2 separate regions of the Homo sapiens genome follow, and region 2 is linked to region 1. A link means that fine-mapping ties the variant in region 1 to the expression of a gene that starts in the linked region. Tissue or cell type: monocytes. Region 1 holds a variant in brackets; the other region holds the start of a gene. All regions are shown on one strand. Distances are from middle to middle.

Evidence for each region. PIP is the estimated chance that this variant, and not a neighbour inherited with it, causes the effect.
Region 2: LGALS3 starts here. The variant in region 1 is fine-mapped to the expression of LGALS3 in monocytes (TOPMed, PIP 0.98).

Annotation. Positions count from the first base shown.
Region 1 is chr14:55,212,727-55,218,800 of GRCh38, forward strand. It overlaps LOC107984708 (a long non-coding RNA gene), which reads left to right. Exons shown (of 3, transcript XR_001750768.2): 3 at 3,755-4,220. Among named protein-coding and RNA genes, the nearest start is that of DLGAP5, 24 kb to the left of the region's middle. The variant C/CAG (reference allele first, on the strand shown) is at 2,555.
Region 2 is chr14:55,126,921-55,132,431 of GRCh38, forward strand. LGALS3 (galectin 3) reads left to right here and starts at 2,332. Exons shown (of 6, transcript NM_002306.4): 1 at 2,332-2,380. RefSeq lists a silencer at 2,028-2,627 and an enhancer at 2,978-3,167.

The sequences.
Region 1 (6,074 bases):
GGCTGGGTTCCCTATTTGCATAGGGCATCAATTCTTGGTTGGCTCCACCCCATCTTTCCAGTGCGCGTGCGGGTCCTTAGTCTGAGCCACTCCACATTGATTTATTTCCTTACTGCGCATGTGTTAAGGGACGGAATTTTTCATTGCGGGCATGTTTGGGCAAGCCTTCTGTGCACAATGAGCTTGGCGGGTCGGGGGTTCTCCAGGGACCCTCCCCTATCTGCCTAGGAGAGTTCTCTGCCTCCTGCCTCTATCAGTATTCTCATGTCAATGCCAGGCTGCAATCATTTTTTTCTTTATATGCTAAATATACAAGTAGAAAATTATAGAATCAATTTAACTGTAAACATGTAATGTCATTATGTACATGATCTTAAATTATCCTTTTGGAAGATAAGTCTTTTTCTTTTTTAGTAGAAATATTAGGTCCTCTGTTTTCATTGTTAACCACATCAGAATCTGTATTATTACTTTTTATTTTGGAAATCAATTGCAGTACAGCAGGCTTACCATATGGTGGCACCCAAAAGCCCAGAAACCAACATCATGCGGCCCAGTATTAGACATGTGTTCAAAAATGTAGGCAGTCAGCTTTCTAGTAGGTAGCAACAGGAAATAAAGCGTCGTAAGACAGTCATCTTAAGAGGGTGCTGGAAATGTTCTACATTTTTATCTGGGTGGTGATTACATAGGTGTATATGTAAAAATTCATAAAGCTGTATTTTTATTTGTTCATTTTATTATTTGTATGTTGCACAACAATAAAAAAATTTAGGCTGGGCACAGTGGTTCACTCCTGCAATCCCAGCACTTTGGGAGGCCGAAGCGGGCGGATCACTTGAGTCAGGAGTTTGAGACCAGCCTGGCCAACATGGTGAAACCCCGTCTCCACTAAAAATACAAAAATTAGCCGGACGTGGTGGCGCGTGCCTGTAATCCCAGCTAGTCAGTAGGCTGAGGCACTAGGATCGCTTGAACCCGGGAGGCAGAGGTTGCAGTGAGCCGAGATCATGCCATTGCAGTCCAGCCTGGGCGACAGAGCAAGACTCTGTCTCAAAAAAAAAAAAAAAAAAAAAAAAAAAAATTAAATGACTATAAATGAGAACCATTTTATATAAGCCATCTTAAATTTTTCCCTATTAATGAAAACAATAACAACAGATTTTAGAGAGTACTAAATATTAGCAATTTTCCTGCATAGTATGAAACTATTTTATGATAGTTATTTTATTATTTTATTTTTTCTTTTATTATTCCCATTTTACACATGATATAGTTATTTGGGCTCATTTCTATACATTTAAAACATTAAAAAATTGTCAGTTTAAGTTAAAACTGTACCATCAGCGCATAACAGTACAATGGATGAATAAATTATGGGCACAATCACATATTGGAACATTTTTATACAAAAGAAGAATTAAAGAACCACAGCTGCATGCATTGACATGGATAAACTGCCAGGCACGGTAGCCCATGCATGTAATCCCAACACTTTGGGTGGCTGAGGTGGGAGGATTGCTTGAGCCCAGGAGTTTAAGACCACCCTGGGCAACCTAGTGAGACCCTGTCTCTAAAAAAAAAAAAAAAAATTAGCCAGGTGTGGTGGCATGTGCCTGTGGTTCCAGCTACTCTGCAGGTTGAGATAGTAGGATCACTTGAGCCTGGGAGGTTGAGGCTGCAGTAAGCGGTAATCATACTGCAGTACTCCAGCCTGCGCAACAGAGTGAAACCACGTCTCAAAAAAAAAGGACACGTTTTATAAACACAGTGTTGGGTGAAAGAAACAAGTCACAAAGATCACTTACATAGAAACTTTTGTATAAAGTTCAAAAATAGTCAAAATGAACTATATTGTTTATGGATGCATATATAGGTGGCAAGCCTAAAGAAACACCAGACAGAATGATTATCATAAAAGTCAGGATAGTGGTTACCCCTTAAGGGGAAGGAGAATGATGCCATCCGAGGAGAGGAACACAGATGGCTTCTAAGGTACTCGCATAGTCCTTCTATTGCTATATTTCTGGCCTGGCGCGGTGGCTCATGCCTGTAATCCCAGTACTTTGGGAGGCCAAGGCAGGTGGATCACAAGGTCAGGAGTTCGAGAACAGCCTGGCCAATATGGTGAAACCCCGTCTCTACTAAATATACAAAAATTAGCTGGGCATGGTAGTACATGCCTGTAGTCCCAGCTACTTGGGAGGCTGAGGCAGAAGAATCGCTTGAACTGAGGAGGCGGAGGTTGCAGTGAGCCGAGATCATGCCACTGCACTCCAGCCTGGGTGACAGAGTGAGACTCTGTCTCAAAAAAAAAAAAATAAAAATAAAATAAAATAAAAATATACATATTTCTTAACTTGAGTGGTGGTTACACGGGGTCTTACTTTATAATTGCTCTTTAAGTATAAAAGAGGCAGATCTAAAAGTAAAATTCCAACAGTCAGGTATTTTGTAGTCTGGAAAGTCCGTGGTATTACCCTTTAGCCAACTAAAAATTGTCATAGGCCCTTAGAATTATGTGTAAGGTTGCCAGATTTAGCAAATAAAAATA[C/CAG]AGAACTACAGTTAATAAATATTCAGGGTTGTGAGTTGAATGTTAACTTCAGATAAAGAACAAGTTTCTAGTATAAGCATATCCTCATGCAATATCTGAGACATACTTATAATAAAAAACAAATCATTGTTTACCTGAAATTCACATGTTACTGGGCATCCTGTATTTTATCTGGTGACCCTAGTTATATGGCAAGTTGCACAAGCAGAAGCAGTTCATGGTGGCCCAGTGTAAGGAGTACCCAGAGGAGGCTCAGGGAAAGGGAAGAGAAGGAAGAAAAATCTTTAAGTAAATTAGCCTGACCCTAAGTTCCTATCTGAATAATTGTGTAAATGAATTTGCTGGCCAGGTGTGGTGGCTCATGCCTGTAATCCCAGCACTTTGAGAGGCCGAGGCAGGCAGATCACCTGAGGTCAGGAGTTCGAGACCAGCCTGACCAACATGGAGAAACCCTGTCTCTACTAAAATACAAAATTAGCAGGGTGTGGTGGCGCATGGCTGTAATCCCAGCTACTTGGGAGGCTGAGGTAGAAGAATCGCTTGAACTCGGGGGGCGGAGGTTGCGGTGAGCTGAGATTGTGCCATTGCGCTCCAGCCTGGGCAACAACAGCGAAACTTCATCTCAAAAAAAAAAAAAAAAAAGAATTTGCTGAGTTCAACCATTATTGCAGTAGTTCATAGTAATGAATCTCCATGATGCATTGAATAATTTATATCAACAAAAAGCAAATGTTTGAAAGAGCCATCAGTGTTTCTCCTTAAAAAAAAACTCTCTCACTGCATCAGCCTCTCTTCTATTTACTTTGGATGAAGATATTGTAGATGATAGTCTTGATGATACTTTTCTATAACTAATTTTTTTTGTAATTTGTAGCCAATGCTTAGAAGTGAAGTTGCAAGGTAGGTTGTTTTGTTTTTCTTCTGCTAATACATGTATTCTCCTGATCATGTACCAGGAACTGACTTAGGCCCAAAGGACAGGATAATGTATGATACCGACACAGTCCCTTCCTATGGAGCTCAGAATCTAGGCCCTAGAAGACTGTAACGTGTGTGTGTGTGTGTGTGTGTGTGTGTGTGTGTGTGTGTGATGCACTTGGTAAAGCATTATCTAGCAACAGTGAATATCTGTTGTTTGTTGCATAGCATCCCACCTTCTTTTGGGAAACCATCCAGACTCCATTCTGTTATTTGGTTTAGGTGAAATTGACCACAAATCAATCACTACCATTGATGAAGATTGATTCAAGAATGGTCGTATAATCCAGTAAGAACTGATGAATGCCTGAGAGCCAATAAATAAAGACTTCTGGAAAAGAGAGGCATTCATTCTTGCCTTTGAGCTTTGCAAGGTGGTAAAGCTTGGTAATAGTCGCCATATAGCTAACTTGAGTGGAGCCATCAAGGTAACCAAGGCTGTCAGACACCCCCAGAGAGAATCATTCACATGTGCAAAGGATGAACTCAACACCCAGAAGAAGCATCCTAGTGACATTGGGCAGCTCTGATTCAAGAGGAACCTGAAACTACTCACAGAATTCATTGAAATTGAGCCAATAAATTCATTCATTTCTTAGGGCGGCTTCAGTTTTCTGTCATTTGCAGCATAAAGATCTGGTGTAATAAAAGTCTAGGAGGAAATAAAAGATTTCTTTCCTATTCTCAACCTCCGGTTTCATCTCCTAGAGATAATCACTGTTTCTTACAGACATATGTTTGCAAACATGTATCTAATGTATGCCTTTTAATGCAAATAGGATTGTATTAAATATATAGTTCCACCACTTGCTCTTTTAAACTTATGTTGTATTATGGGCATCTTCCTTTGTCAACATATAGATCTACCACTTTTTCTTTATAGTTGCATACAATTCTATAAATTAGATGTATCATCAATTTAATCTCTTCCTTTGATAGAAATTTAGTTTTTCCTCAATTTTTTACTTTGACAAACATTACCTTTATACGTATATCTTTGTGCACTTGTGCAGCTATAAAAGGAAAAAAAAATCCTAAAAGTGAAAGTGCTCAAAGAGAATGTGCACTTAAAATTTTTGGCCTCCAGAATTATTACAGCAATTTATACTCTTTTCAGAAACATGAGGCTACGTTTCCTAGTGCTGGTAAAACTGTGTTTGATAAACTTCAGAAAAGTTTGCCAGTACGATAATGAAAAGCAGTATTGTTTTCTTGATTTGCATTTGTTTAGTGAGTGCATATATATATATACACGTGGAGACATACATGGAGCGACACATACATATTTAGGCTATTTTATAACTTCATTAACTATTTTAATGTAAATTTTTTATTCATATCCTTAGTTGATTTTTCTGTTGGGTCATTTATCTTTTCCTCATTTATTTGTCTTTATATATTAAGAAAATAGATTCTTTTCTCATACGTATTTTGAATATTCTTTTCAGTTTTGTTGTTTGTCTTTTTGGTAATTTATTTCTGAATTTCTTTTTCTATTAAATGTTCTAAGTAGAGAAAAAACAGGAGAGGATTATATAATGAGCACTCATACAGCCACTACCTAGTTTTAACATGTTGTCATTTTGTAATATTTGCTTCAGCGTTTTTTTTAAAAGAAAAAATGTTGCAGATACAACTGAAGTTCTTTCATACCCTCTCCAATTCCATTCCTTTCCACCCCTCCCCAGAATAACTAGCATCCTGAAGGAAATGTGCCTGTGTTTTTGGAAACCCTTTATACCCCTCAAATACCCCTCACATGAACTATTTAAATATTTTCCTTTGTCTTTCAGGAAAAAAAAAAAGAAAATGTTAAAAAGACAGAAATAACAAATGGGGCCAGGTGCAGTGGCTTATGCCTGTAATCCCAGCACTTTGGGAGGCTGAGGTGGGAGGATCATCTAAGGTCAGGAGTTCAAGACCAGCCTGGCCAACATGGTGAAACCCCATCTTTACTAAAAAATACAAAAATTAGCCAGGTGTGAGAAGCTATTCTCAAACTGTGCGAGCCTCTTGACAGATGTTGCTAATAAAGAACAGAGAAGAATCTGCCCATCAAACTTTCCTCAAATGAGGTCACTGAGTTATGATCAGATGGCATCATTATAATTTATTTCAACCTCAGAAGAGGTTATTTTTTTAAGGTCATAGTATCTCTTTCTGTCCACTTTGAAGCATATATTAGTTGGCATCAAAGCCCTCCATGTCTGCTTCTGTAAAAGGTCATGGTTGAGGGAGTTGGGGGTGTTCAGGCCTGCTTGGACACATGAAAAATGAAGAAACTTCATAAGCACTGTGATGAAACCAACGTGGTCATGTCTGAACATTTTTGAAGAATGAATTTTAAAACAGTTTTTAAAAAACCCACAAGCCTTTTGAATGGTCTCCAGTTATTTGGTATGCTGAAACTTCTACCTCATTGCTTTTTCTTTTCTATTAAAGTTTTGTTTGTTTGTTTGTTTAGAGCTAGTGTCTCACCCTGATGCCCAGGCTGATCTCAAAACCTTTTGAATGGTCTCCAGTTATTTGGTATGCTGAAACT
Region 2 (5,511 bases), 86 kb before region 1:
TAAATAATCGGCTCTGCTTTCTTCTCCAATTACTGTCTTTCTTTCTCTTTTCTGCTTATCCTTAAAGACTTTCCCTTTTTGTTCTCATCTTCATCTCCTACTCTCTTCTGGCTCTAACTGAAGTTCTCACGCAGCTTCCCTCCTGACCTTCTGGACAGCCACCTGCTTTCCCAAGTTTCCTCCTTTCCCTCCTGTGGAGATGCCTCTCTTAGAATCCTTGCTTTTATCAGCGGCTTACAATCTCTGCATCCGTAGAAACCAGACAGCCTTTTTGTTTGAGGGCTAACACTTGCCTTGTCCCTATTTCAAATAACACAGTGAGCTGTACATAGAAGTTACTCAATGATATCTTAATTGATTTTATTGGGTTCCTTTTTACGCTTATCTTAGAAAAGGGATGTGACTTTGGATTGGGTAATAAAGAGCCGTTTATTGCATGTGTACAAATTATAAATTCCCAGGCACACCCTGATCATAGCAGGATCCTTTTGTTAGCTTTATGGGGCATGAAGTTGGCACCAAAGTATTCATGGGGATGTACAAGTAAGGAAGGGAAGCCAAAAGCATGTCTGATCATACAATCAGGTGTAAGCAAGCCCCCTAAGTAGCCAGGGCATGAACTTTGTCTATCTCTGAAATGACCAGAAGAAAAGGCAAGAGTGTGATTCATCCCTTGCCTCCACAGCAATTCATTTGGCTATCTACTTTTCTTATTACCAATGGCTAACCCTCTAAGGGTACCACTCCTGGCCATGAGGCCTCATGACTCAAAGTCTTAAGATTTATAGCATTTTCCCTGGAGACCAAGGGCATTCCTTTGGGTGATACCTTTTTACTACCCAGAGGTTAGTCATTTACTATGGGTGATCCATTCAAATAAATTGGTTGCCAGGCTACCTCTTCAGATAAGAGTTCAAACTTGCATAAATAATCCCCAGCCACACTGTGACTTCTATGTGCAAGCCTAGAGGGGACGATGTTGCAGGAACCGTGCCAACCACTAAGACACTTTCAAGTTTATCCTAGAGAATGCCAAGACAGCTTCTCAATTCCATCAAGTGAGTCCTTCACAGGAACATTTCCCTAAGTTGAAAAACTGCAGGAAATAATTTATCTTTATGTTATTAATTGGTTACTATAAGGGCTACAGGAATTATTTAGGAACCAGATGATACCTGGTTTTCTCCATAGTTTACATAAGCCAGTCCCTGCAAAGATTCTTCCCCTACCCCCCTTAATTTTTTTTTTTTTCCTCAGAGATCCTTGTTCCAACCTGCAAGGATTCTTTGGCCTGGTGCTTTTCCAGGTAAAGTGTAAGAGCCAGGATTTCTGGATTTTGTTCCTAGACATGAGTGAGCTTGGATAAGTAAATCATTTTCTCTTTTAGTCTGTTTGGGCTTCTGTAACAAAATATCATAAACTGGGTAGCTTATAGGCAATATACATTTATTTCCCACAGTTCTGAAGGTCGGGAAATCCAAGATCCAGGCCAGCAGATTTGATGTCTGGTGAGGGCCTGCTTTCTGGTTCACAGAGGGAGCCTTCTGGCTGTGTCTTCACAAGGTGGAAGTGGCAAGGGGTCTCTCTCCGGCCTCTTTTATTAGGGCACCAATCTCATTCATAAGGACCCTGCCCCTATGACCTAATCACTTCCCAAGGCCTCCACTTCCTAATACATCACCGTGAGGGTTAGGATTTCAACATATGAACTTTGGCGGGATATAAACATTCAGACTATAGCACCCTGACAGTAAAAATGAGATAATAATACTTATCTCTTTCTTCCAACAAAAAGATAAGGTGAAGTTAAAAGGAGGGTATATATATATATAATGTGAATTTCCTGTGTAAAATGTGTTAAAGAGTTGTCTGATTAATTGCTTTATAAGGGAATTGCTTTGAGACTAGGCCTATTGATCTAGAATAAGTAGTCAATTTGTAGTCAGTTCCCTAGGGAATAGACATTGAAAAGATTTTTGGTTTTGTATTCTACAAATAAAGCAACCTATTAATTGAATTCCTCTCAGCGAATTCTTCACTCAGGTGATTCTGGAGAGGGCGGGGGACAGACGCGGCCGCAGCCCAGGTCCCGGGAGCGCCACGGAACCTAACGGTGGCAGCGGAGGTCGCGCCCCTCAGTGCCCGCGCTCTCCCCGTCGGGAGCTTCCTGGTCGCCCCTGCGGCGGCGGCTCGGGGTGTCTGGCCGGCGCGGGGCTCGCCCAGCCTGGTCCGGGGAGAGGACTGGCTGGGCAGGGGCGCCGCCCCGCCTCGGGAGAGGCGGGCCGGGCGGGGCTGGGAGTATTTGAGGCTCGGAGCCACCGCCCCGCCGGCGCCCGCAGCACCTCCTCGCCAGCAGCCGTCCGGAGCCAGCCAACGAGCGGTGAGCTGCGCGGGGCGCGGGGGACGCGGCTCCGGCCGGGCAGGGGAGAGGGCGCCCGGGCGCTGCTTGGGGCGCGGTCCGGAGAGGGTTCGGCTCCCCGGGACCGGGCCGGGGCGCGCGCGGAGAGCCCCACAGCCTGTGCTCTGCCCTCCAGGAGCGGGGCGGCGGGCAGCGATCTGGGCCCGGGGCAGTCGCCTTTGATTATCGAGGGCGCTGGCGTTCGGGGAAGGTTGGCAGCACCTTACGAGACCCACACACGTCCCCGGGGCGGCACGGGCCACCTTCTGCGGAGCCTCGTGGGCTTCGCCGCCGTCGCACCTCCGCCGCCTGCGCTCTGCGGCCCCAGAGTAAGCCCCATCCGGTGACGAGCCGCAGTCTGGTCACCCCAGTCCCACCAGGTCCCGCTGCGAGGGGAGGCGGAGGGGCTCGCTCAGCAAACCAGACGGCCGCTCCAGTTTCTCTAATTGGGGTTGGAGCCCCGTCACCCTTCCCCAGATCACGGCCGCGGGGGAGCGAAGGGACTTCCCAGGACTGCATAGGGCGCCTCCCGGGACCCACAGCTTGGCTGGCCCGGCCCCTTTTGAGCATCAGCTGAGGCTGGACTTGGAGGAGATCTCGCTGTGGAGCGCGAATGAGTTCTTCCACCGGGACCAGCTGCGGCCGGGCTGCAGCCGCTGTCTGGTTGCTGATCCCACAGAAAATGGTGCTTGCCCCATGGCCTGAGTGGGCATGACCCGGCTTTGCAAAGACTGCAAACTCTAAGCTTTTCCGAATCAAATGCCCCTCCCTGCCCAGACTGTCTGTGCCCAGGAAATGGTGGGTGTGGCAAAATGTTGGTCCTAGCGTGCAGAGCCCTACCGGGGGGCTTTCACAACATGTTTGAGAGTTTATTCTGAATTATCGGGTGCTCAAATAGAAACACTAAAACGATTGCCCTCTGAGCAGTAGGCGTTCAGGTCCAGGGAGTCGGGGACGCATGGTGGAGGCTGGGACTTAGGTTTCAGCCTTACCCTTCAAGTTCGCCATGCGGGTTCCAGAGACTGCGGAATGTTTGTAAAGTGACTCTGGGAATTGGGTTGCTGCGCAATGAGGACACCTGGACCTCAGTGACTCAGGCTGTCTCTAGGATTCTGGGGAAGAAATGGGAGAAGGCTCAGTTAATTCTGAAGAAAATGAGACTGATACAATTAACTACTTGGGCACAGGGCCTGAGAAGAAAAAGCTTTCGTCAGCTTCCAAAGTTCTGATTTGTTTACCTAAGGTTTTTTTTTTTTTTGAGACGCAGTTTCGCTCTTGTTGCCCAGGCTGGAGTGCAACGGCACTATCTCGGCTCACCGCAACCTCTGCCTACCGGGTTCAAGCGATTCTCCTGCCTCAGCCTCCCGAGTAGCTGGGATTACAGGCATGCGCCACCATGCCCGGCTAATTTTGTATTTTTCGTGGTGGTGGTGGTGGGGGGGGGGGGGTCCCTCCATGTTGGTCAGGCTGGTCTCGAACCCCCGACCTCAGGTGACCCGCCTGCCTCGGCCTCCTAAAGTGCTGGGATTATAGGCGTGGGCCACTGCGCCTGGCCTACCTCAAGTTTATAAACATTTCATACTAGGAAATTGTGTGTTTCCATAAAAGGTAAAGTTGAATAATGATCATTTACTTTTCTACAACAATAGTCTCCCTTTTAGACATTGACTCTCAATCCTTAGGGTAGGGTCTCTCATTCTAAAGATGATCATACCCCATCCTTGATCTTTGGGGGACTTAAGCAACTTCCTAAATTCATAATATTTAGAGGTGATGTTTAAAATCAGCACTTAGTCCAGATTCTGGGGAGAAGTTTGATGATGGTCCTTGAATATTTAGCACTTAGAAGTGCTAGGAGGATGCCTCACTAAGTTACGTAAGAAGCAGAAGAGGACGAGTACCGCCTGATGGATTGACCCCGAAAACTAGCTGTGTCCAAGTAGAATAGGTGTCTCGCTCTGTTAAGCGGTCTTTAAACTATGATAGTTCGCTGTACTACAAATATGCATAGGTGCTTTACAAAGACTTTTCACTTAGTGAGGTCAAGAGGCTAATGCTGGTCTCATGTATAATTTAGGTACCTTTTTACATAGAACCCTCATTAGCCAGACTCTAAACCTTAACTGCAGCCAAGACCTTTGTTCATGTAGTATGCCTTCAGAATCTCGTGTTGACCTTAAATGCCAAGTGGCTTGTAAACTTATGTACTTGATACTTGTGGTAACTGATCTCAAACATAGCTCTTCTTTCCTGTGATCGTTTGGGACACAGGCTCCCACTCAAGGGTAGCTCCTTGTGTCTGGTGCCTGAACTGGATCTTCTCATTAAATTCTGAGTGGGTAACTTAAGAACCAGTCTAGGCTGTGCTTGCTGTATACTTCCAGTTCGCTATTGACCAAGTGTCATGTGTTCTCTTTTGAACTGTTCAGCTTTTCCGTAGGGGGGAAGATCAGTCATGAGAAGCAGAAAGTAACTCTACCTTCCTTGATGCCAGGGAGCTATGATGAGAAAGAAATCCTAGGAAAGGACCAGTTCCCCTTATTCCAACTTAGCATCACTGAATTTGTCTTTGGCAAATGGGCTTTCCTCAAGTCCTGCTCTGTGTTTCAGCAAGGACAGGAAGTAGACTGCCTCTTGTGTTACTTGAGGAGCAGTGTAGGGCAGTGCCTAGGGGCTCAGGAAGTAGTCTTCTTCTGTGACGGTTGCGCACAGGTCAGGGACCTTTATGAGCAGACATTTCAGAAGTGTTCCTGGGAACCCAGACAACTGGACTGATTGCTGGGTGGGCCTAGAATAGCATAGTGCAGCGGATAGCTACTCTTTGTTAAAGGGAAAAGCTACCAATTAACAGCCGATTAAAATGGTCTGTATTCTAACTCATGTTTAAATTCCTTATTCTGAAGCTACACTGAACTGCTTACTGTAGGTGTTTACAAATGTGGAGACCCAGCTAGTATTTCTCTACTTTTAGTTTATTTTTTGAAGTTTTTTTTTTTTCCCCTCTGACTGTTCAAAATTCTCTGATCCTGGAAACACCAGGGTGGGGTTCACATATCTATAGTGTCTGTAGAGTGGGAAGATTTGTGACATTTGATTGTATGTCTCTCTCTGTA